Homo sapiens: one gene and its partners. The protein of the gene in region 3 purifies or fractionates together with the protein of the main gene of each other region. This does not show direct contact. Each region holds a gene or a part of one and is shown on either strand. Other genes may lie near its edges.

What was found.
Region 1: the proteins of MAGEB10 (region 3) and SPTY2D1 purify together in Homo sapiens (affinity purification with mass spectrometry; 2 studies listed by BioGRID and IntAct, with this or other methods). This does not show direct contact.
Region 2: the proteins of MAGEB10 (region 3) and GTPBP4 purify together in Homo sapiens (affinity purification with mass spectrometry; 2 studies listed by BioGRID and IntAct, with this or other methods). This does not show direct contact.
Region 4: the proteins of MAGEB10 (region 3) and SDAD1 purify together in Homo sapiens (affinity purification with mass spectrometry; 2 studies listed by BioGRID and IntAct, with this or other methods). This does not show direct contact.

Annotation. Positions count from the first base shown.
Region 1 is NC_000011.10:18,610,326-18,617,361, reverse strand, and holds part of SPTY2D1 (protein SPT2 homolog), read left to right. Parts: intron 1-372; coding exon 373-487; intron 488-1,263; coding exon 1,264-2,799; intron 2,800-4,873; coding exon 4,874-5,048; intron 5,049-5,807; coding exon 5,808-5,885; intron 5,886-7,036. UniProt on the Homo sapiens protein: Histone chaperone that stabilizes pre-existing histone tetramers and regulates replication-independent histone exchange on chromatin.
Region 2 is NC_000010.11:1,005,434-1,012,469, reverse strand, and holds part of GTPBP4 (GTP-binding protein 4), read right to left. Parts: intron 6,653-7,036; coding exon 6,563-6,652; intron 5,453-6,562; coding exon 5,342-5,452; intron 3,513-5,341; coding exon 3,435-3,512; intron 2,942-3,434; coding exon 2,890-2,941; intron 2,051-2,889; coding exon 1,950-2,050; intron 6-1,949; coding exon 1-5. UniProt on the Homo sapiens protein: Involved in the biogenesis of the 60S ribosomal subunit. Acts as a TP53 repressor, preventing TP53 stabilization and cell cycle arrest.
Region 3 is NC_000023.11:27,803,664-27,810,989, reverse strand, and holds the start of MAGEB10 (melanoma-associated antigen B10), read right to left. Parts: upstream 3,001-7,326; 5' UTR 2,954-3,000; intron 1-2,953.
Region 4 is NC_000004.12:75,987,933-75,994,836, reverse strand, and holds the start of SDAD1 (protein SDA1 homolog), read left to right. Parts: upstream 1-3,891; 5' UTR 3,892-3,995; coding exon 3,996-4,085; exon of another isoform or gene 4,086-4,126; coding exon of another isoform or gene 4,127-4,141; intron 4,142-6,904.

The DNA of each region.
Region 1 (7,036 bases), on a different chromosome or scaffold from region 3:
AGACCCTGAGCCCAGCCTAAATCAGAATTTTAAAACACAAATAATCGATTCTTCTAAGTGGTGATTTCATTTAGTTACCCAGTCCAGGTTCTTTTTTGGAAAATAGCCTGAAAACAGTGTTTCTGTGAATTGTTCATTTATGCATTATTTTGGGATGTTACATGGAAACTTTGTACCCCAAAATCACCATACGTAATAAATAGTCTGAAATTTTATAGCTAAGCTTTATTATGGGTTATATGATCTCTCAATTATTCAGAATAGGTTTCACAGTTAACATTTATACCTCTTATTACCTGGCACAGTGCCTTATACCTAATAATGTATTTTAAAAGTTGAATTGCTTCTAACTTTTACTGTTTTTGTTTTTAGAAAAGGTATAGTTTGGCAGTGGGGCCTCCAAAAAAAGACCCAAAAGTTAAAGGTGTCCAATCAGCAGCTGTACAAGCTTTTCTTAAAAGGAAAGAAGAGGAGCTGAGACGAAAAGGTATGTATCTATAGCCTTATTCTCAATTTTAAAGTATTCCATCTTCACCATCTAGCTTGTACTAAACCAGTGGCTGTCTATAAAAACATAACAGGCCAACAGATTTGGGAGGGTGTGTGTGTGTGTGTGTGTGTGTGTGTGTCCAGGTTAACTGACTGTATTCATGGCTTTACATATGTTACCTCGATCATTTGTATAAACGTTTTCTTTTTTTCTCCCCTTGAAGTAACAGCTTTTTGGGGGTTAGTAGCCATGTCTTCTAATTGGCCATAGTAAGTCCCCAGTAAGAACTCCATTCTTTCTTTAATCTTGGTTCTGAAAGTGTTTCTACCCATTTTGTATTTTAATTTTTATTAACAGAATGCTATCTAAAAGGCTAAAATAGAGATAAGTTTTAAAGTCTTTATTTCGAATAGTTCTACTTCATGCAAATACAAAGAAACTGATTCAATATGTTTAAGTATTCATTGAATCATAATTAATAACAACTACTAAGTGGATACTAATGTTCTCTTAACTTGGTAATGTATTTGGTTTGAAGTATTTTGTATATTTAAAGCTGAAAACCAAGTCTCCCACTTGCTTAGTCATATAGAAAAACCCATATGTCTCCCACTCATTATGTAAAGATGACTCAATTGATACTTGTTCACATGACTTCCTCATTTGATTCCTAGATGTCTTCAAACTGTAACCTGAACGTTGTGTTTTCACTTGAGCATACTGCAATCTTGAGATCTCGAAGTAATAACATATTCTTGTTTTGTCCCTTTTAGCCTTAGAGGAGAAAAGGAGAAAAGAGGAACTAGTGAAAAAGCGAATTGAGCTCAAACATGACAAGAAAGCAAGAGCTATGGCCAAGAGGACAAAGGATAATTTCCATGGTTACAATGGGATTCCTATTGAGGAAAAGTCAAAGAAGAGGCAGGCAACAGAAAGCCATACCAGCCAAGGAACCGACCGAGAGTATGAAATGGAAGAAGAGAATGAATTCCTCGAGTACAATCACGCAGAGTCAGAGCAGGAGTATGAGGAAGAGCAAGAACCTCCCAAAGTTGAAAGCAAACCAAAGGTCCCCCTTAAAAGTGCCCCACCACCCATGAACTTCACTGATTTACTCAGGCTGGCTGAGAAAAAGCAGTTTGAACCAGTGGAAATCAAGGTAGTGAAGAAATCAGAAGAGCGACCTATGACCGCAGAAGAACTTAGGGAGCGAGAATTCCTTGAACGAAAGCATAGGAGAAAAAAACTTGAGACAGATGGAAAACTACCTCCAACTGTGTCCAAAAAGGCACCCTCTCAGAAAGAAAGTGTGGGCACAAAACTTAGCAAAGGTTCTGGAGACAGGCATCCTTCTTCCAAAGGAATGCCCCTTCCTCATGCTGAGAAGAAATCAAGACCCAGCATGGCCAATGAGAAACACCTCGCTTTGTCTTCATCCAAATCCATGCCAGGAGAGAGGATCAAGGCAGGATCTGGCAATAGCTCCCAACCCTCACTTCGTGAGGGCCACGACAAACCTGTTTTTAATGGAGCTGGAAAGCCTCATTCCAGCACCTCTTCACCAAGTGTCCCAAAGACTTCTGCTAGCAGGACTCAGAAATCTGCTGTTGAGCACAAAGCCAAAAAATCTCTGTCCCATCCTAGCCATTCCAGGCCTGGGCCCATGGTCACCCCACACAATAAGGCTAAGAGTCCAGGTGTCAGGCAGCCAGGCAGCAGCTCTAGCTCAGCCCCTGGGCAGCCCAGCACAGGGGTTGCTCGACCCACAGTTAGTTCTGGCCCTGTGCCTAGGCGCCAGAATGGCAGCTCCAGCTCAGGACCTGAGCGATCAATCAGTGGGTCCAAGAAGCCAACCAATGACTCAAATCCCTCTAGGCGGACAGTCAGTGGTACATGTGGCCCTGGACAACCTGCAAGCAGCTCAGGTGGCCCTGGGCGACCCATCAGTGGTTCAGTTAGTTCTGCAAGACCCTTGGGCAGCTCTCGTGGCCCTGGCCGGCCTGTGAGCAGTCCACATGAACTTCGACGACCAGTGAGTGGCTTGGGCCCCCCGGGGCGGTCTGTCAGTGGCCCTGGGAGATCCATAAGTGGCTCAATTCCAGCTGGACGGACTGTCAGTAATTCAGTCCCAGGAAGACCAGTGAGCAGCTTGGGACCTGGGCAAACAGTTAGTAGCTCAGGTCCCACTATAAAGCCTAAGTGCACTGTTGTCTCCGAAACAATTTCTTCCAAGAATATCATTAGCCGGTCCAGCAATGGACAGATGAATGGAATGAAGCCTCCCCTATCTGGCTACAGAGCTGCCCAAGGTAAAATTTCCCCTCACCCGAAAGAGTATATATTTGTCATTAGGAAATTGGAAAGAGTTTTTATATTATCAGGGACCCTTTGAACCCCTCATGTGCTGTCCTTTAATGTGCTGTAGTGTTGATAGAATCGTGATGTTTTATCTGCCTTGTGGTTGAGAGTTCCTTGTTTTTTTGTTTTTGAGACAGGGTCTTGCTCTGTTGCCCAGGCACAATCACAGGCTCAAGCAGTTCTCCCACCTTAGCTTCCCAGGTAGCTGGGACTATAGGCGTGTGCCACCATGCCTGGCTAACTTTTTATTTTTTATAGAGATGGGGTTTCAGTATGTTGCCTATACTAGTTTCTAACTCCGGGGCTCAGAGATCCGCCTTCCTCAGCTTCCCAAAATACTGGGATTATAGTCATGAGTCACTATTCCCTGCTGAGAGTTCCTTTAATGGCTTGGAAAGGTCTTTAGAAAGAGACTTGTCTAGGATCTCTGTGTTCACCCTTGAAATGTCCCTAAGTGTGATAAACTTAGCTTTGTGATTTGTGAACATTCAGGGTGAATGTACGTGACTTACATATGTATGCTGCAATGGATGAATTAATCTACTTTTTCCTGAGGACTAAAGAGACCTGTCTTCAAGGATCAGGGTATAATCGGAAGCTTATTCAGCAGATATTTCTTGGGCACCCATTATGTGCCAGGAACTGTTTTTAGATTGTACTTGTGTTTCTGCTTGTTATAATGGTTAGTATCAAGATCCTAAACACTGATCCTTCAGGAATCTGCTGTCCCAAGGTATATGATCATTGGTGGCACCTGCTAGCTGCTAGGTCGTACTTGCTTTATGCTAATAGAGATTTATTAAAGCACTTGTTAGGCTCCACGGAGAATATAAAAAGGAACCAATGATTGAATTACTTGTTTTAAATTTCCTAGTTCAACTAGACCATTGATTCTTAACAAGGGCAATTTTGCCCTCCAGGGGACTTTTGGCAATCGTCACAACTGGGGATGGGGGATGCCACTGGCATCTACTGAATAGAGGACAGGGATGCTGCTGACAAACAATGCATGGGATAGCCCCCTGACAGCAAAGAATTATCTGGTCCGAAATGTCATTGAGCTAAGGTTGAGAAACTAAGCTAGGGAGACAAGCCATGCATATTAAAAACAACCGTAGAAGAACAAAAGAAGTGTCTGTAATCAAAAACTAGAAAGTAGTTGTTCCCAGATCCTGGGCTGTTGATCAATGCCTGTCTTTTGCAAAGTTTTTATCAGTCTTTTGGTAAAATGACAAAAATAAGGATAATGTAGTGAGTTTTTCCTACAGTCAAACTTACTCAGTTTGAACAATATAATTCTGAGAGTCATTCATACTTCATTCAACTTTAAATTTTTAAATGAAATTGTGATTATAGTAGATGGTAGTTGCTACTTTTGGTGTCTTGGCAAAAGTTAATGATTCTGTGGAGGTTTGTAAATTGTATTTATTTTTAGAAATTTTACTGATTTTGGCCGGGCGCGGTGGCGCCGCCTGTAATCCCAGCACTTTGGGAGGCCAAGGCAGACAGATCACCTGAGGTCGGGAGTTCGAGACCAGCCTGACCAACGTGGAGAAACCCCATCTCTACTAAAAATACAAAATTAGCCAGGCGTTGTGGCACATGCCTATAATCCCAGCTACTCGGGAGGCTGAGGCAGGAGAATTGCTTGAACCTGGGAGGCAGAGGTTGCAGTGAGCCGAGATCGCACCATTGCACTCCAGCCTAGGCAACAAGTGAAACTCTGTCTCAAAAAAAAAAAAAAGAAAGAAAGAAATTTTACTGATCTTATAAATTCAGAAATATTGGCACTACTAAGCTAGAAAATGTAACAAGATATTTCTGGTAAGCCCTGGGATAAAACAGGAGTTCTGTTCCTTCTGGATACCATGACACAGCAAGGATGATGGCTCTGCGCTAAGGGCCAGCCTGCTTGCTCTGGTTTTAAAGGATACCATCTTAATGATGACTCACAATTTCAGTTTACATAGAACTGCATTGGAACTATTTTAAATTGTAATATTCTTATAAATAATGGTTTCTTAGGTCCTCAAAGGCTTCCCTTCCCTACTGGTTACAAAAGGCAGCGAGAATATGAAGAGGAAGATGACGATGATGATGAATACGACTCTGAAATGGAAGATTTTATTGAAGATGAAGGAGAGCCTCAGGAAGAAATATCCAAGCACATTAGAGAAATCTTTGGTTATGACCGAAAAAAGTAAGACTAAAGAAGATTCAGATAACTATGACATCCTTTTTTTATTTTGAATAATTCATGTCATGGGGTAATAAACTAATAGTGGAGGCACTGAATACAATTCTTAATTAGGAACCCTTGGGTGATTGTTATTTAAATAAACGTACTCTTTTAGCACTAAATATTTTATATTTAATTCAAAATAGTTTCTGTAGTTATTTGCATGAGGAACAAAAAATAACCCTTTTAAATTGTTATTCTTATAAGATATATATTTAGTGAGATGGAAGCAGCTTAGTGTAGTAGAAGTAGATTGGCTCTTGAAAAAACAAGCTGTATGTTCTTGGTCAGTCTGTTAACTCAACTGCTTCAGTTTCCTCTGGTCTAAAGTCTTTCCCCACCTCATGATGGTCATGAAGCTCAAATTAGATTATTATATATAAAATAATTTTCATATATACTGTGCTTTCAAATTTTAATATAAATTATCAAGTAAATGTAGGTGAGTGAGTTGAGGAAGCACTGTAGGATTGGTACCTTCATGAACATTAGCTTCAGAATAGTTGCCCTCTGAGGGTAATAAGGGCTTATCTAAAACTTGTCTTTACTTCAGAAACCTATCCATCCTCCACTCCCCTCACTCGCTGCCAAGCAAGGAATAATTCTAAATGTGTGCTTGATTTAGTTTTAAAGGAGATATTGATTTTTTAAATGAGAGGACGTAGTTCCTTTAGAAAATTGAAGTTTTCTCTTTTTATCATTTTGATTTCCTTTTATCAGATACAAAGATGAAAGTGATTATGCCTTACGTTACATGGAAAGTAGTTGGAAAGAGCAGCAGAAGGAAGAAGCAAAGAGGTAAGCATAAAATTTAGCATACTTGTGCAAAAATGTCCTAAAAATTCCTTTCTGCTTATTGCTACAATTGCACCATTGGGAACTGGGGCTTTGGGCCAGAGAATTCTGGATTCCAATCCTGTTTACTAGCTGTGGGGCCTTGGACAAATTCCTTAACAGTTCTGTTTTTTCACTGGTTTTTGTTTTTTTGTTTTTTAACAGAGATGGGGTCTCGCTATGTTGACCAGGCTAGTCTCAAACCCCTGGCCTCAAGTGATCCTCCCATCTCAGCCTCCCAAAGTGCTGGGATTACAGGCATGAGCCACTGCACTGGACCATCACTGTTTTTTTTGTTTGTTTTGTTTTTAAGAGATGGGGTCTTGCTTTGTTATCCAGGCTGGTCCCAAAGTCCTGGGCTCAAGCAATCCTCCTGCCTTAGCCTCACAAAGTGTTGGGATTATAGGTGTGAGCCACCATGCCCAGCCTATTTTCTTTTGTAAAATGAGAATATACTGTTTTACTCATTTAAGTATAATGAGGATTAAGACGTGTACAAGATGCCTAGTGCAGTGCCTCACATGTGTGGATACACAGTAAATGTTAGATGCTTTCCCTAATCCTGTTGTAGCAAATTCTTGCTTTTCTTTCTGCATCAGACACATCTCAATCTTGGTAACCTGTAACATTGCTGGCCTCAGGGATGTAGGTATATTACATTTCCTCTGATTTCTGTTTGGCTATCTGATAGTAAGCTAATGATACTTTCTCTATTGGGGTAAAAAGTAATTACTTTGTTTATAGTATTGTTGTTTTTTTTTTTTTTTTTTTTTAAGAGACAGGGTCTTGCTCTGTCGCCAAGGCTGGAGTGCGGTGGCATGGTCACGGCTCACTGCAACCCCCACCTCCCCGGGTTCAAGCGATTCTTCTGCCTCAGCTTCCCAAGTAGCTGGGACTACAGGTGTGCGCTACCACGCCCAGCTAATTTTTGTAATTTTTAGTAGAGATGGGGTTTCACCATATGTTGGCCAGGCTGGTCTCAAACTCCTGACCTCAGGTGATCCGCCTGGCTCGGCTTCCTAAAGTGCTGGGATTACAGGTGTGAGCCACTGTGCCCGGCCATAATGTTATTATAGGTAAATAATTCACTTCAGTCTCAAGCCAGAATACTATAT
Region 2 (7,036 bases), on a different chromosome or scaffold from region 3:
AATTTCTTTAAAAATGGAGTTGTAATGAAGCAAAATTAACAATGAGAAAACCCCTGAGTCAGTGAGTGTGGCAGAGTGTGTATGGGAGCTTTGTTTCCCTGACTCAGAGGAGAGCGATTGCCCTGGTCCAGACCCACCTGGGCCCTGCCTATGTGCCATTTACCTCACAGGGAGGGTTCTGTGAAGAAAATGGAGACCACGTGAACGCCAGCCGCCAGCAAGTCAGTAACCCCTGTGCACCATTTCCTTTTTTTAAAACAATTAAATTCCAAGGCTAAAAATGTGCAGAGACCGCCTCCTTCACTTCCAATGCTCCCGGCAGACACACACAAGGAACTCAGTCCTGAGACACTGATTTCGTGCCACATCCCACGTGTCCGTTCTAATGTCACCCCAAATACAACCTCACTGGCTACAAATAAGACAAAAATGAAAACTAAAACACACACGTTTATCACCCCCCAATGAGGCAACCCGGCCAGGAGCCCAGCAGGCAGATGTGCCTGTACGAGATGCTGGCCAGCAGTGCAGAGGGTGAGACGGGGGCCAGGCCTCGTGGAAGGGGATGGCACGGGCACAGCTGTGCGGAGGAGGGAAGTCTCAAGGCTTCTTGCGCCCAAGAGCGCGCACTGCAGAGGGGAAGAGGCTGGGAAGGCAGGCGGCCACCGCGGGGACAGTGAGGGCACGGGCTGGACTGGGGCCCCAGCAGAGGTGACAGCAGATGCCCTGAGGCCACTCCTCCAGCACCAACGAAATTGAGATTGTTGCCCCCAGAATCTGCTATCCCAGAATCTGCTATGGAGGCACAGGGAGCACAGAGACCACGAGACTGAAAATGTGAACTCAATGACGGAGGGCCTGTGGGAACCAAGGAGTGGCAACATGGGACATGCAGATGGCAAGTATTGTATAAAAAGAATGTTCCAGAGAGCTCAGCTGAGAGAAGAAGGCAGGACAGCAAGTATTGTATAAAAAGCATGTTCCAGAGAGCTCAGCTGAGAGCAGAAGGCAGGACAGCAAGTATTGTATAAGCATGTTAGCATGTTTCAGACAGCTCAGCTGAGAGAAGAAGGCAGGATAGCAACTAATGGAGGACACGGTCTAAGGATGTTTTCGTTTTTTAAAAAGATGAGTAAAACTTGTGGACTTTTATATGCTAAGAAAAAGCAAGTAGGGAGGGGATTGAGGCAGGAAAAAGATGTGACACAGCGGAGCCCCCAAGGAAGAGGGTCCAGCACAGCAGAGTCCATTAAGGGCCTGGCGGAGATACAGGGTGGGGAAGGTGGTGCAGGGGGCACAGTCAGGATGGAGGGATGCAGGAGAATGAAGGGGCCCAGCATCTCCACCAGAGTCTCGGGGTGGGGGGAAGAGGTGCAGGAGGCACAGTCAGGATGGAGGGATGCAGGAGAATGAAGGGCCCAGCACAGCAGAGCCCATCCAGGGCCTGGCGGAGACACAGGGTGGGGGGGAAGGTGGTGCAGGAGGCACAGTCAGGATGGAGGGGTGCAGGAGAATGAAGAGGCCCAGCATCTCCACCAGAGTCTCGGGGTGGGGAAGGTGGTGTAGGGGGCAGAGTCAGGATGGAGGGATGCAGGAGAATGAAGGGGCCCAGCATCTCCACCAGTGTCGGGACAGGGAAGAGGTGCAGGAGGCAGAGTCAGGATGGAGGGGTGCAGGATAACGAAGGGGCCCAGCATCTCCACCAGAGTGTCCGGGGTGGGTGGGTGGAGGCGGCGGGAAGGGGGCAGGCCAGCATAGCAGAGCCCAGCCAGGGCCAGTATCTCCACCAGAGTCTCAGGGTGGGGAAGTGGTACAGGGGGCAGAGTCAGGATGGAGGGGTGCAGAATGAAGCGGACAGGCCCAGCTGAGCCGAAGCCATGCTGCTATCTTCCAGCAATACTACTATAATAAAAAGGAAAACAATCCGCAATTTAAAAAGTGACACAAACCTTCATGATGGCTGGATCAATATAATCAGCTATATTATGGCCTTCCCAGATTTCTGGTATCTTATCATGTTTTTCAGACAAATTCATTAAATCCCAGTACTCTAAAGTTAAAAAAAAGGTGGTTACGTTTACAGCAGTTTTTAATATCTTCAAGTACTACGTGCGCAAAATGAGTTGTGACTGACGGCAAATCAACGACTCCACTGCAGAAGAGAGCACGACGTGCAATTCCACATGCAGCAGCATCAACACATCAGCCTCATTCAACACCCACACGTGGAGAAAGCTACAGAAATCACCCCACCATCCCAAAACAACAGGAAACAACACATCAGCCTCATTCAACACCCACACGTGGAGAAAGCTACAGAAATCACCCCACCATCCCAAAACAACAGGAAACAACACATCAGCCTCATTCAACACCCACACGTGGAGAAAGCTACAGAAATCACCCCACCATCCCAAAACAACAGGAAACAATGGAAGAACCCCCACTGAGTGCTATCAGCATGCACCTTTCTTTGAGACAGAGTCTCACTCTGTCGTCCAGGCTGGAGGGCAGAGGTACAATTTCTGCCCACTGCAGCCTTGTCCTCCTAGGGTCAAGTGATCCTCCCACCTCAGCCTCCCGTGTCACTGGAACTACAGGCACATGCCACCACACCCGGCTAATCTTTGTATTTTTTGTAGAGACGGGGTTCTGCCATGTTGCCCAGGTTGGTCTCAAACTCCTGGGCATAAGGGATCCAAAGTGCTGTGATTACAGGCGTGAGCCACTGCACCTGGCCCTCAGGATGCAACTTTTAATCTTCAAGAAATTAAAAGTTGACAAATAGGCTGAAACACTTTTATTACTTATTAAAGTCTTTCCCCCATTTTCTGAAATACTTCACGTCCAATTGGCATTTTATAATAATGATCACACTCTGGCCCTTACTCTGAAGATCCAAAATATAATCATCTCCCATTTCCAGCTCAAGATCTCGTTCCTGCAATAGAAAGAGAAATTATCATCAGCTTCATTTTGCCTTTCAGATCCAGAAATGCTCTGCCCCTTGTCACTTGAAACAATCTTTTCTCCAATCCTCTCAGTATCAGTGGGGTTCACCTTCCATTTCTGGTAGGAAGGCTGTTTCTTATCTCCCTGTCTGCGGGGCCAGCCTTTGGGTTCTGGTAGGAAGAGGCTGTTTCTTATCTCCCTGTCTGTGGGGCCGGCCTTTAGGTTCTGGTAGGAAGAGGCTGTTTCTGGCCATCTGGGGACTGTCTATCCCACTCATGCATTTGGTTCACGGCCATCTTCCCTCAGGCCAAAGAGCCCCATGAGAGAGGCTTCTGCAGGGGGACTCACTGCTGTGTCCGCAGCCTGACGGGGCCAGTGTCTGGGCACCCGCGGCTCCTGTTCGATGCCCCAGGCCCCCACGATGGGCACACACAGCCTGCCTCCCCCCATGAGAACACTGGGCGAGAGCTTCGGCAGCATACCCTCTTCTTCCTGGACTCCTCAGTTTCCATCCTCTTCCTGCGAGCCACCACTCCTTCAGGGATGAAAGGGGGCCTCTCCTGAGAAGATCCCATATAAAATATTTATGTGAAATGCCTGCTGAATGAGAAACTTACAAAGCCGAAAAAGTAGAAACAAATTCCCTACGTGCAAGGGGAACAGAAAACCATACCCAGACCAATGAACAACCAACAGATTATTTTAGGGGAGAGGAGTGGGTTCATACCGAGACCAATTAACAACCAACAGATTATTTTAGGGGAGAGGAGTGGGTTCAGGGTCACTTTGAGCACAGAGACCAGGAGGACTCCACAAAGTGATTCCAAAGTTTATCCAGGAAAAACAGAAATCATGATTATCATGAAAAATTATGGAAGAAGAAAGTGGTAAGAAATAACACTGGATCAACAGATGAAAGAAATTTAGACATAAACTCAAGTGCATATAAGAATTCAATGGAAACATAAAATTTCCAATACTCAGGTCAGAAATGCCGACCACTTGAAACGGAGTGCAACCTCCACCCTCACAACATAACCAACTCAAGACACGGTGAAGACTATCCAAAAAAGCTAATTTTTAATGCTAGTATAAAAGATAATTTTTTTTTTTTGACAGAGTCTCACTCTTGTCACCCAGGCTGGAGTACAGTGGAGTGATCTCGGCTCACTGCAACCTCCACCTCCCAGGTTCAAACGATTCTCCCGCCTCAGCCTCCTGAATAGGTAGAATTATAGGTGCGCGCCCGACTAATTTTCGTAGTTTTAGCAGAGATGGGGTTTCACCATGATTGCCAGGCTGGTCTCAGACTCTTGACCTCAGGTGATCCACCCGCCTCGGCCTCCCAGAGTGCTGGGATTACAGACGTGAGCCACTGCACCCAGCAAGAAAAGATACTTTTAAAATGACTTTGGAATGAATGGTAAGCCTTTCTATGTACAATGCAAACCTGAACACCCAGAAAAAAAAATTAATATATGTTAATAGTTCAAAAATGTACAGCACATTTGAAGTTAAAAAGGCAAGTGACAAAAAGAGAAAAAAATTTGCAATGTATCTGACAAGAATCCAACCTTTGTAATACAAAAGTAACAAATCAGCGAGAAAAAGATAAACAGCCTAAAGAACTTTGAAAAGGCCAATAAGCAGACAAACATGCTCAACCGCACCCAGCATTACATAAACACACAACAATAAAATCATCTTTACACAAGACTGACAGTCAGTGCCCGACCACGCCGAGGACACAAGGAAAGACAGAGGGAAGGACACAGCCTCCAGCGTCAGTGCAGCACACACCAGGAAGGCGTCTGTGGGACAGGAACGTTGTCAACACCACATGGTGAAGTGCAGACACATTTGCAGTAAAACATGAAGACACAGCGTAACGATGTGTGCCCATTCACAATGGACAAAACAATGAAAATTTATTTTATTTATTTTTTATAGAGACAGGGTCCCACTATGTTGCCCAGGCTGGTCAAGAACTCCTGGGCTTAAGCAATCTTCCCACCTTGGCCTCCCAAAGTGCTGGGATTACAGGCGTGAGCTACTTCCCCCAGCCAAAAAAATGAAAATTTAAAGAATGAAACAGATTTCCATCTGTGTTTAAAGAACTTTTTAGAAACTAATCTTCTATATCAGAAACATTTCTGGAAGGATAAACTAACAGTGACCACGTCATGCAGTGGGAAACGGGTGCCATGTGGCGTTCTGCACTTTCTTCACCTTCTCGATCCTTTATGTAAGCAAGAAGGTGAAACTGAGGCCCACCCACAATATCCACCTGCGAGTGTGTGAAGCTGGATGGGAGGCTTCTGGAAAAGGCACGCAGACAGCACCTGCTGACAGTACTGTGAGCCCACGGCTGTCCCAGGGGCCGTCTTACCTTATCGTCCCTCCTGGTTGGGATAGCCAGGTGCAGTCTATTCAGCACCTCATTCACTTTATTTCCCTTCATTTTGGTTTCCACTCGATGAGCCAAAAGCCTATCGCAAGCCTAATAACGTAAAAAAGAAGGCACAGTCACAAACGCATCCTCCAGCAGCCTCCAGCTACAGGTTCCAGGAGGAGCCACAGATCAGAGCCACTGAGCCTTTTCCCTCAAGGTAACTAACACGTAGGGGGCCACATTCTCTGAGGCCCAGGTGGAAGCGGCCCTGAGGGAAGGTGCATCTCCAGTGCCTGGGCCTCTCTCCCACCACAGTGACCCTCTGCACAGACGGTGCCCTCCAACTGCCCTTCACGAACCGGAGGCAATGTTGCCCCTCAGGACTCTAACCGAGCAACAAATTCCTGAGTGCGACCATGGCATCAGGAGTGCCATCTTTTTAAATCCTGAGTGCGACCATGGCATCAGGAGTGCCATCTTTTTTTTTGAGATGGTATCTCGCTCTTGCTGCCCAGGCTGTAGTGCAGTGGCATGATCTCAGCTCACAGCAACCTCCGCCTCCCAGGTTCAAACGATTCTCCTGCCTCAGCCTCCCGAGTAGCTGGGATTACAAGCATGCGCTACCACGCCCGGCTAATTTTGTATTTTTAGGAGAGACGGAGTTTCACCACGTTGGCCAGGCTGGTCTCGAACTCCCGACCTTGGGTGATCTACCCGCCTCAGCCTCCCAAAGTGCTGGGATTACAGGCGTGAGCCACTGCGCCTGGCCAGAAATGTCCTTTTATTTGAGATAAAAACAACATGAAATACAAAGTAATTAGGACAGCATGTGAAATCCAGCAGCGGACTGCCTCCTGCAAAAGCTGTTCTGCTTTTCAGACTTTTCTCCCTTCTACTTCGAACAGGTTCCATAAAAATAATTTTCACTGTACTTGCTACCGAAATATTAAAAGGCCAGAGACAACAGCTGCTTTAGGGTAAAGTTGTTTGGGGTGAGAAGAGCAAAGCATCCCCTCACAACCCACTGTCCACGGGGGGCAAAGTGGGTCTTAGAAGGGTCTGTCTTCACGCCCCACTCTCGCACGCCACCCGCCTCGCTACTGCGAGGGCTCCAAGTGTTAACAATGTCTAGAAAGAAAACTATTTTCTCCCCACAACTGACTTGAATCAAACAAGAGACAGTAAAAAGACTAATACCTGACTTAAGGCAGCACTGACCTCTGTTTTAACTTTAATAACACCTTCCTCAGTCAGGGTGCTGGTCTCTATTACAGGGAATCCTTCAGACTGCAAATCTGTAAATATTTTCTGGGAATGCAAAGAAAAAACGAGAGATGTATTATTCATTTCCAGTTCCCTATGGAACAAACTGTACAGTTCTGCAAATGGAGGCTGCAAATGTGAACATCTGTGGTTGTTTCAAAGTCTTAAAAAACAGACATATCCTAAAAACAGTTATTTTCTTCATATTCTTCTATGATCAAGAAAACACAAATGACATCAAAAAGATGGCCGACTAGTAGCCCCTCACATCTGTCCCCCACAACAAAGGCAATCAGAATAACGAACAACTACATGTTAATAACTGAGGGGGAGCTCCAGAGGGCATCACAGGAGTAACAGGCACCCTGGGGAGCAGAAAAACGCAAGACGATGAAATACAGCCCAAAGAAAACACCAGGGGCCAGGCGC
Region 3 (7,326 bases):
GGGTGGGGTGCGTTCAGAATGACAAATCTGCCCAGGGCTTCCCAAGGCTGACCACAGAGGCAGTGCCTAGCCCCATCAGTCCTCACTTTGACTTCCATAAGGGCCTGAGTCACCTCCCTCTAATGACCTGCCACTGACTGCCCTATCAAATCTATGTCCTCATCACCCTGTGACCACTAAGGATAAATTGAGGGATACCTTAGCCGAGAGTCATGCTGAAAGGCTACCAAGGCTCATAGTAGTGGTACTCTGTTGGGTCCCCTTTGTTCTGGGAAGAAAATCCCTTCAGTCTTTGCTCTGGGTTCTAAACTAAACTCCTGGTTACCCCCAAAGACTCCTTCCACTGCTGACCTCAATGCGCTAGCCTTAGTTTGTACCCTTCCCCACGACCACCACCAGAATATGAAGCGAGGGGTCACCTGGGCCTTACAGCCACGCTAGGGACCTCCCAGAACTTACAGGAAGGGCAGGATTCTCTAAGGCCGCCATCTTTATGGGAAGCTAGTTTCCCCCACAGCCCACACTGGGGCATTTCATTAACACGTGGCAGAGCATAGTGTGTCCGGAATTGGTGGGTTCTTGGTCTCAAAAGCTGCGGACCCTCGTGGTGAGTGTTACAGTTCTTAAAGGTGGCGTGTCCGGAGTTTGTTCCTTCTAATGTTCGGATGTGTTCGGAGCTTCTTCCTTCTGGTGGGTTCGTGGTCTCACTGGCTCAGGAGTGAAGCTGCAGACCTTCGCTCGTGGTGTTACAGCTCATAAAGGCAGTGTGGACCCAAAGAGGGAGCAGCAGCAAGATTTATTGTAAAGAGTGAAAGAACAAAGCTTCCACAGTTTGGAAGGGGACCCCAGCGGGTTGCCAAGGCTGGCTCGGGCAGCCTACTTTTATTCTGTTATCTGGCCCCACCCACATCCTGCTGATTTGTCCATTTTACAGAGAGCTGAGTGGTCTGATCTGACAGGGTGCTGATTGGTGCATTTACAATCCCTGAGCTAGACACAAAGGTTCTTCACCTCCCCACTAGATTAGCTAGATACAGAGTGTTGACACAAGGGTTCTCCAAATCCCCACCAGAGTAGCTGGATACAGAGTGTCCATTGGTGTATTCACAAACCTTGAGCTAGACACAGGGTGCTGATTGGTGTGTTTACAAACCTTGAGCTAGATACAGAGTGCCGATTGGTGTATTTACAATCCCCTAGCTAGACATAAAGGTTCTCCAAGTCCCCACCAGTCAGGAGCCCAGCTGGCTTCACCCAGTGGATCCCGCACTGGGGCCGCAGGTGGAGCTGCCTGCCAGTCCCGCGCCATGCGCCCGCAGTCCTCAGCCCTTGGGTGGTCGATGGGACTGGGCACCGCAGAGCGGGGGGCGGCGCTCGTCAGGGAGGCTCCGGTAGGACAGGAGGGGGGGTGGGTGGGGTGGGGGCGGTGGGCGGGGCGGGGCGGGGCGGGGGCCGGCGGCGGGGGGGGGGCGGGCGGGGGGGGGGGCGGGCGGGGCGGGGGGGGGGCCGGCGGGGGGGTGGTGGTTGGGGCGGGGGCGGGCGGGGTTGGGGGGGGCTGGCGGGGTTGGGGGGGGCTGGCGGGGTTGGAGGGGGCTGGCGGGGTTGGGGGGGTGGGAGAGGCTCAGGAATGGCGGGCTGCAGGTCCTGAGCCCTGCCCCACGGGAAGGAAGCTAAGGCCTGGCGAGAAATTGAGCACAGCAACTACTGGCCCAGGTGCTAAGCCCCTCACTGCCTGGGCCGGGGGGCCTGCCAGCTGCTCTGAGTGCCGGGCCCGCCAAGCTCATGCCCACCGGGAACTTGCGCTGTCCCGCAAGCACCACGTGCAGCCCTGGTTCCCGCCCAGGCCTCTCCCTCCACACCTCCCTGCAAGCTGAGAGAGCCGGCTCCGGCCTTGGCCAGCCCAGAAAGGGGCTCCCACAGTGCAGCGGTGGGCTGAAGGGCTCCTCAAGTGCCACCAAAGTGGGAGCCCAGGCAGAGGAGGCACCAAGAGCCAGCGAGGGCTGTGAGGGCTGCCAGCATGCTGTCACCTCTCAATAGGACTCCTTCCCCTGCTGCCCGAGGCAGACACCGTGGTCCAATACCCTCATCTCCTTGAGAGGTTAAAGGTGGAAATTCCAGCTACCCCTACTTAGGATCACCCAGGCTTGAGAGCAGAGGCTGGGCTCTGTGGGGACCGGTCCGCTATGGCAGAAAGGGAGTTTTATGGAACTCACCCTTTATTGACTCCTGGAGGGTTCTAAGACCCTTATCTCAGGTGGCTTGATGCCAACACCTTAGTCCAATGCTATCACTTCCCTGACTCTCCAGAAGAATAATGCAGAGTGCGATACCCAAGAGGATCCCTGCCCGGGGTTTTTTCGGCTTAAGGCAGAGGCTGGACGGCATGGCGTTCTTTCTTTTGCGGTAGGGGTTCCCCTCAAACATTATTCAGTGTCTTTGCCTTACCTCCTGGCAGGGCCTGGATGCCTTCCTCTGCTGACCAGATACCAACCGCCTCACTGCAAGGCCTCACCTCCCACGGACGGCAGAAGCGGAAGTGTGTGTGACATCCGGGCATCCTGCCCACGGACCGAAGGGCTGCCAGCAAGGGCGGTGTGGCGTGACTTTCTGTGGCGCCCCCTTTGTTATGGAGTAGTAGTAATATTAAGTCCTCCTCTAGGAAGTATATCCATGTTTTCGCTCCTAATTCATTGATTAAAGGCCCCTTAGGGAAATAATAACCCTTTATTGACTACTGGAGGGTTCTAAGACCCCAATCTCTGGTGGCTTGATGCCAGCACCTTAGCCCAATGCTATCACTTCCCTGACTCTCCAGAAGAATAATGCAGAGTGCGATACCTAAGAGGATCCCTGCCCGGGGCTTTTGCGGCTTAAGGCCGAGGCCGGACGGCATGGCGTTCTTTCTTTTGTGGTAGTGGGTCCCCTCAAATGCTATTCAGTGTCTTTGCCTTACCTCCTGGCGGGGCCTGGATGCCTTTCTCTGCTGACCAGATACCAATCGCCTCACTGCAAGGCCTCACCTCCCACGGACGGCAGAAGCGGAAGTGTACGTGACATCCGGGCATCCTGCCCACGGCCCGAAGGGCTGCCAGCAAGGGCGGCGTGGCGTGACTTTCTGTGGCGCCCTCTTTGTTATGGAGTAATAGTAATATTAAGTCCTCTCGGAAGTAGATCCATATTTTGGCTCCTAATTCATTGATTACAGGCTCCTTAGAGAAATAATCACCAAACAATAAGCTCTGGACAGTTTTGCAACATAAACCGTTACGGATAATGGGTTTGCGTTCCAGGCTTGATGGGAGAAGAGAGGCCGCAGCACAAAGGTAGGGTGCCCAAGACAGATTCTGAGATGTTGGAGTAAGTGCATTATAACTATGGGGTCTCTTCACTGGCGAAATGTAGACATTGCGAACTTTCTGTTCTAAAAGATCTACTTTCTATAGAGAAGCCATAGATGTACACAATTTTGTGAGACCCAGATCTCTTGACTTTATCTAACATTGCATTGTATTGTGCAGTGAAATTCATTTTAATTATGGTCTTATTTGTTCCACCAAATATATTATATGCATGTTCTATTACTACTGCTTTGTGTGGCAAGGCTTTTGATTTTGCTACAGTGATTTATACACCGCTTTTCAGAAGTCATTTATTGATTTGGATTGGGTGTGGTCTTTTCCTTTGGATTTTCTAAAATGATGATCACATTTTCACCAAATAATTTCTATTTCTATTAAATATTTCCAAGTTACATTTGTTTTTATAGTCTTATCCTCTGGCCATGTATTCAGCATACATTTATGTCTGGTTCCTTGCTTTAATGAGAATGCGTCGAGCGTTCAGCATTTCACATTTAAGTTTGTTTGCCATAGGTTTTAGGAAATGAAAGTTATCTTCTGATGTTAGTTTGTGGAATGTTATCAAGCATTTGTGTTGAATTTTTTGTTGAAAAATTTTTCTGTACCTCAGTACATGATCGAATGCCCATTTAAAAAAATGTAATGGCCGAGCGCAGCTACTCGGGAGGCTGACACATGACGATTGCTGGAGCCCAAGAGATCGACACCAGTCCGCAACATAGTGGGAGTCGGTCGCTATAAAAAATTAAAAAAAAAATTAGACGGGCACGGTGGCGCACGCCTGTAGTCTGAGCCACTCTGGAGGCTGAGGCCCAAGGATCTTTTGAGTCCAAGCAGGTCGAGGTTGCTCCAGTCTGGGCGCCAGAGCAAGACCCATCTCAAATAATAATAATAATAATAATCTAATCTGTTAGTGTGAGAATATTTTAGGCAATTTTTTTCTAATGTTGTATTATCTTTACATTTCATGGATACAGACTTTTTTTCCATTGAATTAACTGCAATATTGGACCTGCTATGTGTTTATTGAGGATCTTTGCCTCTGTGTGGGTGAACTTGGCTCAGTTGTTCCCCTCCCCGCACCTAGGTTATCCTCAGCTGTTCTTTTTGTTTTGTTTTGTTTTTTTGTTTTTTGTTTTTTTAATCAAAGAAAGCTAGCCTGGGAAAGTGAGTTGAACATCATAAGATGGTGGTTATTTTTGTGTTTACATAAGATGGTCAGCTTTTCACTGCTTATTTGGTAGAACTGGTCCCAAAATGCCTGGTCCCAAAACATTTGAGGGTGGCTGGAGCTTTGATCAGTTTCATTTTGCGTTTCGCAATTACAGATTTTTATTTCTATTTGGATTAATTGGGCCATTCATATTTTCCTAAATAATGGTCTGTTTTCATTTGGGGTTTCAAATTTAATGATTATATATATTCTTTTTATTGTAGAAATTCTCAAATATATTCTACTGTAGAGAGAATATACCTGGAACTCAGAATCATCAACACATGGCCAACCTGGCTTCGTCTATACTCACACATAACACCATGTCTGCCAGTGGAATAATGTGAAACAAATCCTAGGCATCACATCATTTCATCTTTAAATATTTCAGTATGTGTTTTTAAAGACAGAAATATTAACTGATAACACTACCCCACCTTATAAAATTAACTCCTTCATGTAATTAACTGTTCAGTTATTTTCACATTTACCCACTGACATCATTTAAGTGTGTTTTTTCTTGAACCCGGGTCCAAATAAATCTAATCATTATCACTGCATTTTATGACCATTAATTTATACATTCTTCCCCCCAACACACATACATTACTTCTTTATCCCTGCAATCTTTGTTTTTACAAAAAAACAGATCTTATGCTCTGTTCAGTTTCACATGGTCTGGCTTTTGCTTTGTGCAACATTAATGTCATTCTTCTCTGTATTTCTTTCAATTGGTAGAGGTTTTATCATATTAAAATTTAATTTTTATTCTCTCTCGTTTTATTTGGAAAGATCACTTTACAGGTGATGTGAACTTTCATTACGAGGAAGTAACTTCCATTATGAGGGGGACCGAATATTTGTCTCCCTTTTTGTTGATGTTGGCAGTCTTTGAAGATTAGTATATTTATCCATTAATTAATTAGGGTTTGCAAAATGTTAATTTTTCTAATTCTACCATTCCTTCTGATTTCATTAGATGAAATATATCTTTCTGTAGAAATCATCCCTTGTCTATCATTTGTTAATGATATTTACAGTGTTCTCTTATGGTATTCAAGTTCCTTCTGCACCTATTTTTGTACAGTATTTTAAAGCTACTATCAGTTTTCTTTTGTAATTGAAGATGACTATAAAATTGTCTCCTATATAAATCTTTTAAAAGAATAGGCTTTTGTTAGTTGGCTCCACTGTCTTAATTAATCATTTCTGCATTTATCTTAGTTATTTCCTATGCTTTATTTCTTTGGGTTAAATATGGTTTTATTTCTCTAGCTTCTTGAAGTTTTGCATGTTTAAAATATTTCTGTTTTTTTCTAATCAGTTTATTTAAGGCTGTAAATATTCCTTTGTGTACCACCTGATTTGTTTCCCACAGGTAATGCTATAGAGTTTTATGTGCAGTGCTTGATTATTTTACAAGCTGAATATATCTCTGTATTCCTTATGCTCTTAGAATTTTTTGAATATGTGTGCGCAAATGCTAGTGAGTGCAAAAATTATTTTGGGGAAGGATGTGAAGAAGAGAGACATAGTTATTTAGAGGAGGTTTCAGTCTCCCAGGGGTGTTTTGTTTTGGTTACATATAATATAAAAGACTTGAACACATTTTACTGCTAGTGACTCAGTTGAGGCTTTCCTGTGAATGAAATGGTCTCACATTAGAACAATCAATATAATTAGCCAAGTATAACTGTTAAAGATTATCCAGGAAAACAGAAATTACTTTAAATACATAAGTCAGGTTGAATATGATGCACAAAATTGGTTACTCAAGTGATGGAGAAGCCAAACGGGAGAGGCGGGCAAGCCAATATTTGGCAGCTTAAGAAATTTTCTTCAGTCTCTAGGATAGAAACAAATAAAGGAGATAATGTTAATGGAGCCTTGGAGTTGGGGTCAATAGGATCTGGAACTAAGGTGGATAAGTATGATGAGGGTGAGAGCCATGGAGAAGATGTAAACCTTGAAAGCAGTTGAAGGCACCTGATGCAGAGAGAGAAAATAAAATATAAACTCTAGCTGCTTCTGTCCTCCTGTACTGTACTAACCTGCTGGTGCCTTCTGTTGCTTGAACCATGATGGCAGCCAAATGTTGGAGAACATAGGAAGTGCAGCCTACAATCATCTCCTGAACACTGGAGAACAGAGCAAGGAAAGAGAGAGAAAGGGATCTGAGGCCAATCAGGTCAAGGACTGGCATATTGCCTTGACATATTGTGAGAAAAATCATATCTAAATTGATACAGAAAAGTATTTTGTAAAAATCAGCATTAATTCATGATAAAAAGAGATGTTATCAAAGTAGATAAAGGATATCTACCAAAATCTATAGCAAATATTCTACTCAGTAGAAAAACATTGGCTATTGGAAAATAGATAAGAATAGCTGCTATCACTATTTTTATTCCACATTATAATAGGGGTTCCTGCCAATGCAGTAATGGGAAACAGATGAAATAAAAGGATTGGAAAATAAGATGATTTAGATGTCAGTTCTCAAATTATCTTTAATCAAAATCCCAGAAGGATTTTTGTAGAAGTGAATACACTGACTGTAAAATTAATATGGACATGTGATCGACCAAGAATAGCCAAAACGACTTTGCAAAACAAGAACAAAATAAGAGGACTAATACTACCCAATCTCAAGACTTATTATAAAATTCAAGTAATCATGACAGTGTGGCATTTTTGTAAAGACAGGCAAATAGATCAGCGAAACAGAATAGAAATACCAACAATAGACTTCAG
Region 4 (6,904 bases), on a different chromosome or scaffold from region 3:
CCAAAATCTAGGTGCCAGCAGATCTAGTATCTTAGTATTTGATGAGGCACTCTTCTTGATTTGCAAACAGATGTTTTCTCGTATCCTCACATGGCAGAGATCAGAGAGAAAGGAGGTAAGCTTTCTTGTGTCTCTTCTTACAAGGATGATAATCTCATCATGAGGACTCCACCTTCATGAACTAATTACCTCCTAATACCATCCCATTGGGGGTTAGGGTTTCAACATATGAATTTGGCGGGACACAATCATGCAGTTCATAACAGCCTTCTATGCCACTGAAGAACTTCAGCTTTTACTCTGAGTGAGAAGGGAAGTTGGAAGAATAACCTGATCCATTTAAGGCTCTCTCTGACCACTACATGGAAATACAGTGTAAGAGGGTAAGGGAAAATGCAGAGAGACCAGTTAAAGGTCAGTTACCAAGTATGTTTCCAGGAGAAGGGAGAGACCAACTGTGTCCAATGCTGCAGGTTAAGTTAAATAATGAAAATTGATGTGATTGGTGATCTTGATAAAAAACAGTTTCAGTGGAATGGTAGAAGCAAAAGATTGATCGGCAGTTTCTTAAAAGTTACACGTAAACCTATCATATTGATCCAGTTATTCTATTCCTAGACATTTACCAAGATATTTATGTCCACATAGAGACTTGATGGCACGACATGGTGGCTCAAGCCTGTAATCCCAACACTTTGAGAGGCCAAGGCGGGAGGATCACTTGAGGCCAGGAATTCAAGACCAGCCTGGACAACATAGTGAGACCCTGTCTTTTATATATATATATATATTTTTTTTTTTTTTTTTTTTTTTTTTTGAGACGGAGTCTTGCTCTGTCACCAAGGTTGGAGTGCAGTGGTGCGATCTTGGCTCACTGCAACCTCCACCTCCTGGGTTCAACCGACTCCCCTGCCTCAGCCTCCTGAGTAGCTGGGACTACAGGTGCGCGCCACCACGCCCGGCTAATTTTTTGTATTTTTTAGCAGAGACGGAGTTTCACCATGTTGGCCAGGATGATCTCGATCTCCTGACCTCGTGACCCGCCGCCTCGGCCTCCCAAAGTGCTGGGATTACAGGCGTGAGCCACTGAGCCCAGCCAAAAATATATTTTTTTAAATTAGCTGGGCATGGTGGCACACCACCTGTAGTCCCAGCTACTAGGGAGGCTGAGTTTAGGAGTTCAAGGCTGCAGTGAGCTATGATCATGCCACTGCACTCCACCCTTGGTGACAGAGCAACACCCTATCTCTTAAAAAGAGACTTGAACATGAATGTTCACAGCCAAAACTGGAAACAACCCAAATATCCAGCAACTAGTGAATGGATAAACAAATTGCAATATGTCTATATGATGGAATACTACTCAGGAATAAAAGGAGTGAACTATTGATACATACAACACCATGGATACATTTCAAAATAATTATGCTAAGTGAAAGAACCTTGACCTCAAATAATAGGTACTGTATGATTCCATTTGTATACAATTCCAGCAAACACAGACATATCTTTGGTGACAGAAAGCAGATGTGTGTTTGTCTGGGGATGATGAGGCACAAGGAACGTTTGGGGATGATGGATATAGTCATTATTTTGATTGTGATGATGGTTTTATGGGTACATACATATGTCAAAACTTATCAAATTGTTCACTGGGTAGTTTGTTGTACATCAATTATATCTTAATAAAGCTATAAAATAAATACATTATAATTTTAAAAATAAAGGATGGAATTTCACATGAAAGCAGAGATGTTGGCCTTAGATACCCAAATTATTTAACATCTGAAAAATATATATTCAGTTAGCCACTCTTAGTCTTAGAGTTCTCATTTATCAAAAACAAATCCTGCCTTCCATGCTGCTGGAGGTAAAATGAACTGACCTATATGCCCTCCTTAGAATAGCAATTAAAGCCTTTCATATCAGGACAATATAACCTTCTCAGCTCTTTCCCTGCTGCACCCTGCCCTCCCAGCCTTTAGTCACACCAAACTTATGGCTATTGTTTCAATACACCAGACATTTTCAAGTACCTGTACGCAGTCTTTTTTCTTTTTTTTTTTTTTTTGAGACAGGGTCTCACTGTATTGCCCAGGCTGGTGTGCAGTGCTTCACTGCAACCTTAACCTCCTGGGCTCAAGCAACCCTTTTGCTTCAGCCTCCTCAGTAGCTTGGACCACAAGCCTGTGCCACCATGCCTGGCTGATTTTTCAACTTTTTGGTAGAGATGGGGTCTCACTATATTGCCCAGGCTAGTCTTGAACTACCCAGCTCAAGTGGTTCTCCCACCTTGGCTTCCCAAAGTTCTGGGATTACAGGCTTGAGCTACCACACTTAGCCAGATTTTGTTTTGAGAATACTTTTTTTGCCCTCACTAAAACAACCTAGCCAAAAAATTTTAATTTAAATCTATGCTTTTTAAAAAAGATTTATTGCTGACATTTATTTCTTAACTTCACAGGTAACTGATTTGATAATTAATAAATAAGTCATTCTCCAAAAGCAGCTGAATAACATGGTTTGTGAAGCATTCTTTATTTTGTGTGCAGGTGTGATTACAGAGTTGTTTTGTTTGGGGCTCATTTTATCATCGTCACAGATGAGGTTGGCGTTCTATAAAATTGCTTTGGTTAAGCAGAACCCTATTGTCTGGCTATTTTGCCAGACCAGCAACCAGCTACCAGCTGTTAGGCTATGTTTTTTCTCATGTAGTTACAATCAAGACTGTCTAGATTGAAATCTCATCTTCCTCACAGGCTATGAATTGAGGCAGTCAACTTCCCTGAGCTTGTTTCCTCTTCTGTAAAATGTAGATAACAATAGCACCTATTTTAGAGGGTTGTTCTGAGGATTAAATAAGTTAATACAAGTGCTTGGAATAGTGCCTGGCACAGGGTGGGTAATTAGGTTTTTTTTTCTCTCTCTCTAATTCACAACACCCTACCTCATTCATTCAACCCTTATTGATTTTTTACACCTTGAGATTGTAGAAATGTATTCTCCTCTTCGAATTACCAGGATCTGAATTAAAAACTCTGACTGAGGAGTGCTTACAAAGCTTATAACGATGGTTGAATTTTAACGATTAATTGCATTTATTAATGGTCAACATGATCACATTTTATCCAGCCCTCTTTTCCCTTGTATGGGTCACGCTAAGTTGAAACAACCAAAACCAAAATAAAAACATATCTAAAATCATACACATTAACTTATATGACCCTCGTTGCTCTTTTTTCCTCCTAAGAGGGAATAGTGTTATCTAGCGCCACGGTTCTTTTCAGTTTTGTTTTGTTTTGTTTTGTTTTTTATACGGAGTTTCGCTCTTGTTGCCCAGGCTGGAGTGAAATGGTGCAATCTCGGCTTACCGCAATCTCCGCCTCCTGTGTTCAAGCGATTCTCCTGCCTCAGCCTCCCTAGTAGCTGGGATTACAGGCATGCGCCACCACGCTCGACTAATTTTGTAATTTTAGTAGAGACGGGGTTTCTCCATGTGGATCAGGCCGGTCTCGAACTCCCGACCTCAGGCCCGCCTTGGCCTCCCAAAGTGCTGGGATTACAGGCGTCAGTTTCTAATTTTAGACTGCGGGATTAAAAATAAACGATTAATCCTCATTTATGTGCTTCATATGGGTGTCGGAATGACGATACATGCTAACACACGTGAAAAAATTTACATTTCAGATCCTTTCAGAAACGCAAGGCAATATTAAGTAGTAGCATATGCCCAAGGGCGAGGGGCGGGTCGGCGGTGGCTGGCTCTCCAATACACCACAGAGTATTTTGGCAACGAGAGTAATTTTGACACTCTGAGGCTTCCGTAGCATAGCTCGCTTTAGGAACCGCTAAGGTGTCGCCTGCCTAGAGTCCCATGCGCTATTTCCGGTCATACCCGGAAACACGAGTCCAAGCTGCAGCTGGCAGGGATTGCGGGGTGCCGGCCGTCTGAGTTTTTTTAAAACTGCTCGCCGCGAAGTCTGTCTGCAGCCAAAATGTCCAACAGAAACAACAACAAGCTTCCCAGCAACCTGCCGCAGTTACAGAATCTAATCAAGCGAGACCCGCCGGCCTACATCGAGGAGGTGGGAGTGCGGCGCGGCAGACGCTAGAGGCCGGATAGTGGATGGTTGAGACGCCGGTGCGGGAAAGCATGGAGTGGGGCTGGGATCCAGGCTCGCCGCCTATTCTTCTGTTAGGTTCAGGGGTCCCTCCAGAGGAGAGAAGGGGTTGGGGACGGGACATGCCTTAGGGTTCGTTCCCCACCTCTTGAAAATCTGTTGCCCCTTTGGATTTTCTACCTGCCCTGCTGCCGCTGAAACACCTTTAAAACCTCATTTTGTTTTAAGATATTTTTCTTCGTCCGCACGGAAGTGGAGAGAGAAATGGGCCGCACCCAACCACCAACTTCCACGCGGATTTCTCAGCCTCTTTTCAGAAATCCCAAACTTGAATTAGTCGGTAACCTTTGATGAATCGTATGTTAGAATGCTTTCGATTGACGTCCGTTTCTGAGAGCAGGCTGTGTACCCTGGACTGTGCCAGGAAAGGGGGGGGGGGGGTTTCTCAAGCACAACGGACAGACTCGGGAGCTTAGTATATTTAGTTAAGCCAGGATTCAAACTTACCGGAGACTGGCATGACTCGGATGTCAGAATTTGCTTCGGGAAAAGATTAGGTTGAAAAATTAGGCCCTCATTGTGATGGGCTTTGTGTACTGACCTCATGTAAGTTGTGAACATTAGGGGTGTTTGAACCAAGTACCGACAAAACGAAAGTGGTTTTTGATATATTAATCTGACAGGTGCTTCCTTCAGACACTCATTTATCAGACGGGCATTAAACAGGTATCTCTGCTAGGCATTTGCTGCAATTACATGTTTGTGCTTCTACCAGATTGTGATTTGTTCAGTGGCTAACACAATTACTTATTTTTTCATTGCCCTTCTCACTTCCCTCCTCCCCTAAATTTTCACATATATGTATTTTATGAGTGCTTTTTAACACATGGCAATCTCAGTGGCTTAGGTCACCAGTAGAGAAAGCCTCTCCAAGGATCAAGGTAGTGGAAATAAAGAGTAGGAAACAAGTACAAGAAGTTAAGTAACATAGGCAAGGCTTTGAGATGCTTAAAGCATTGTATAGCCATTCGCAAAGAAAGTGGTAAGTTGAGAGTCTATATAATTCCGTTAGATAACTCCTGCTGCTGACTGTTGTTAACCAGTTGTGTAACCGAAGCAGGTTAATCGCTGAGCCTATGTGGGTATTTTAATATGTAAGAAGGGGGTAATAACTACTTCTTTAATTCACTTAAGTATATATGCAAAATCACATATAACTACTGTGTGTTGTTATTCTAGGTAGGCGTTGGGGTACAGTAATGAATAAGACAGATAAGAAAGCATTCTTCTCTTGGACTTACATTCAAGTGAGTGTAGACTTATTATGGTAGAGATTATGAAGAAAATAAAACTGGATGGGAATAGGTTAGAATTGGAGGCTTCTGATTTAGACCCCGTAAACAGGGAAGGTGGCTCTGCAATGATGATATTGAGCCAGGCAGGTAAACATCATTTTAGGTACAAGGAATAGAAAGTGCAGAAGCTACTGGTGGAAAAAAAGCAGAGAAGAAGCCAGTGTAGCTAAAGTGTAGTCAGCATAGAAGAGGGCAGTGGAAGATGATGTAGGAAATGCAGGCAGGGGTCAGCTTATTCAGAGCCTCTTAGGCCCTGTTAACGAGTTTAGATTTCACTCTGAGTGCCTCGGGGAGTGATTGAAGAGTTTTAAGCAGGAGAGTGACATGATCTGACATATTTTTTTTAAGAATTTACTCTGGAAGTTACATGTGGAATGGCTTGTAGAGGAGCAACACTGGAAGCAGGGTAACTAATATAATGGATCTCAGAATAACCAAGCAAGGGATTGTGGTGTCATTGGAATTATGGGCAAAGATTCGTGCTGTTCTACGTGGAGGTAGAGCTAGTAGAGCCTTGGGATTTCTGGTGGAGTGGATGTGGGGGATAAGGAAAAAAGAAGGAATGAAGGATCACCCAGGTTTTTTATTTATATGTCTAGGTAGATGATAGTGCCATTTCCTGAAGTTCGTTCATTTGACAAATACTGTTGATTACCTGCTATATGTAAGGCACAATGCTGGGCCCTGGGACTACATAATATTGAGCTGTACCGATAAAAATTCTATGCTCATTAAATGACATTCTAGTAGGGGGTGATATACAGTAACAAATAATATAGTATGTTAAATAATGAAAAGTGCTGTGAAAAAAAGACAATAGGAAAGTACTTATGTATGTTGGGGGTGAGATGGGTATTGCAGTTTTAAATTGGATAGTTAGGGAAGGTCTTCTTGAGATAGTAATCTTTGAGTGAAAACCTGAAGGACATGAGGGAGAGCTGTGCATATGTTTAGGAAGAATGATCTAGGCAGAAGGAACAGAAGGTATAAAGACCTTGGGGTAGGTATGCCTGGTAGATTTCAGGAACATAAAGGCCAGTGTGGCTCCAAATAGGGAATGAGGAAAGGGGGTGAATTTGGGATTCTACCTCCCAATGAGATGGAAGCCTTTACAGGGTTTTGAGCAGAAGAATACATGAACCACCCTATATGAGAACAAGATCACCGTTACTTGAGGATAGACTGTATGTAGGAGGGCAAAGATAGAAGCAGAGACACCACATAAGAAGCTATTGGAATTATCCACAGCAAGAGATGATGCTGGGTTGAGTGGTGCTAGGATGGTAACAGGAAGTAGTAAGAAGGGTGATTAGATCCTGGATTGGGTAGGTAGAGAAAGCCCTGGGGATTCCCAACATTTAAAGGCCAGTGAGTTTCTAAGTAACTGGAAAAAGGGACTGAGAAAGCAGCCAGTGAAGTTTCGAGGAA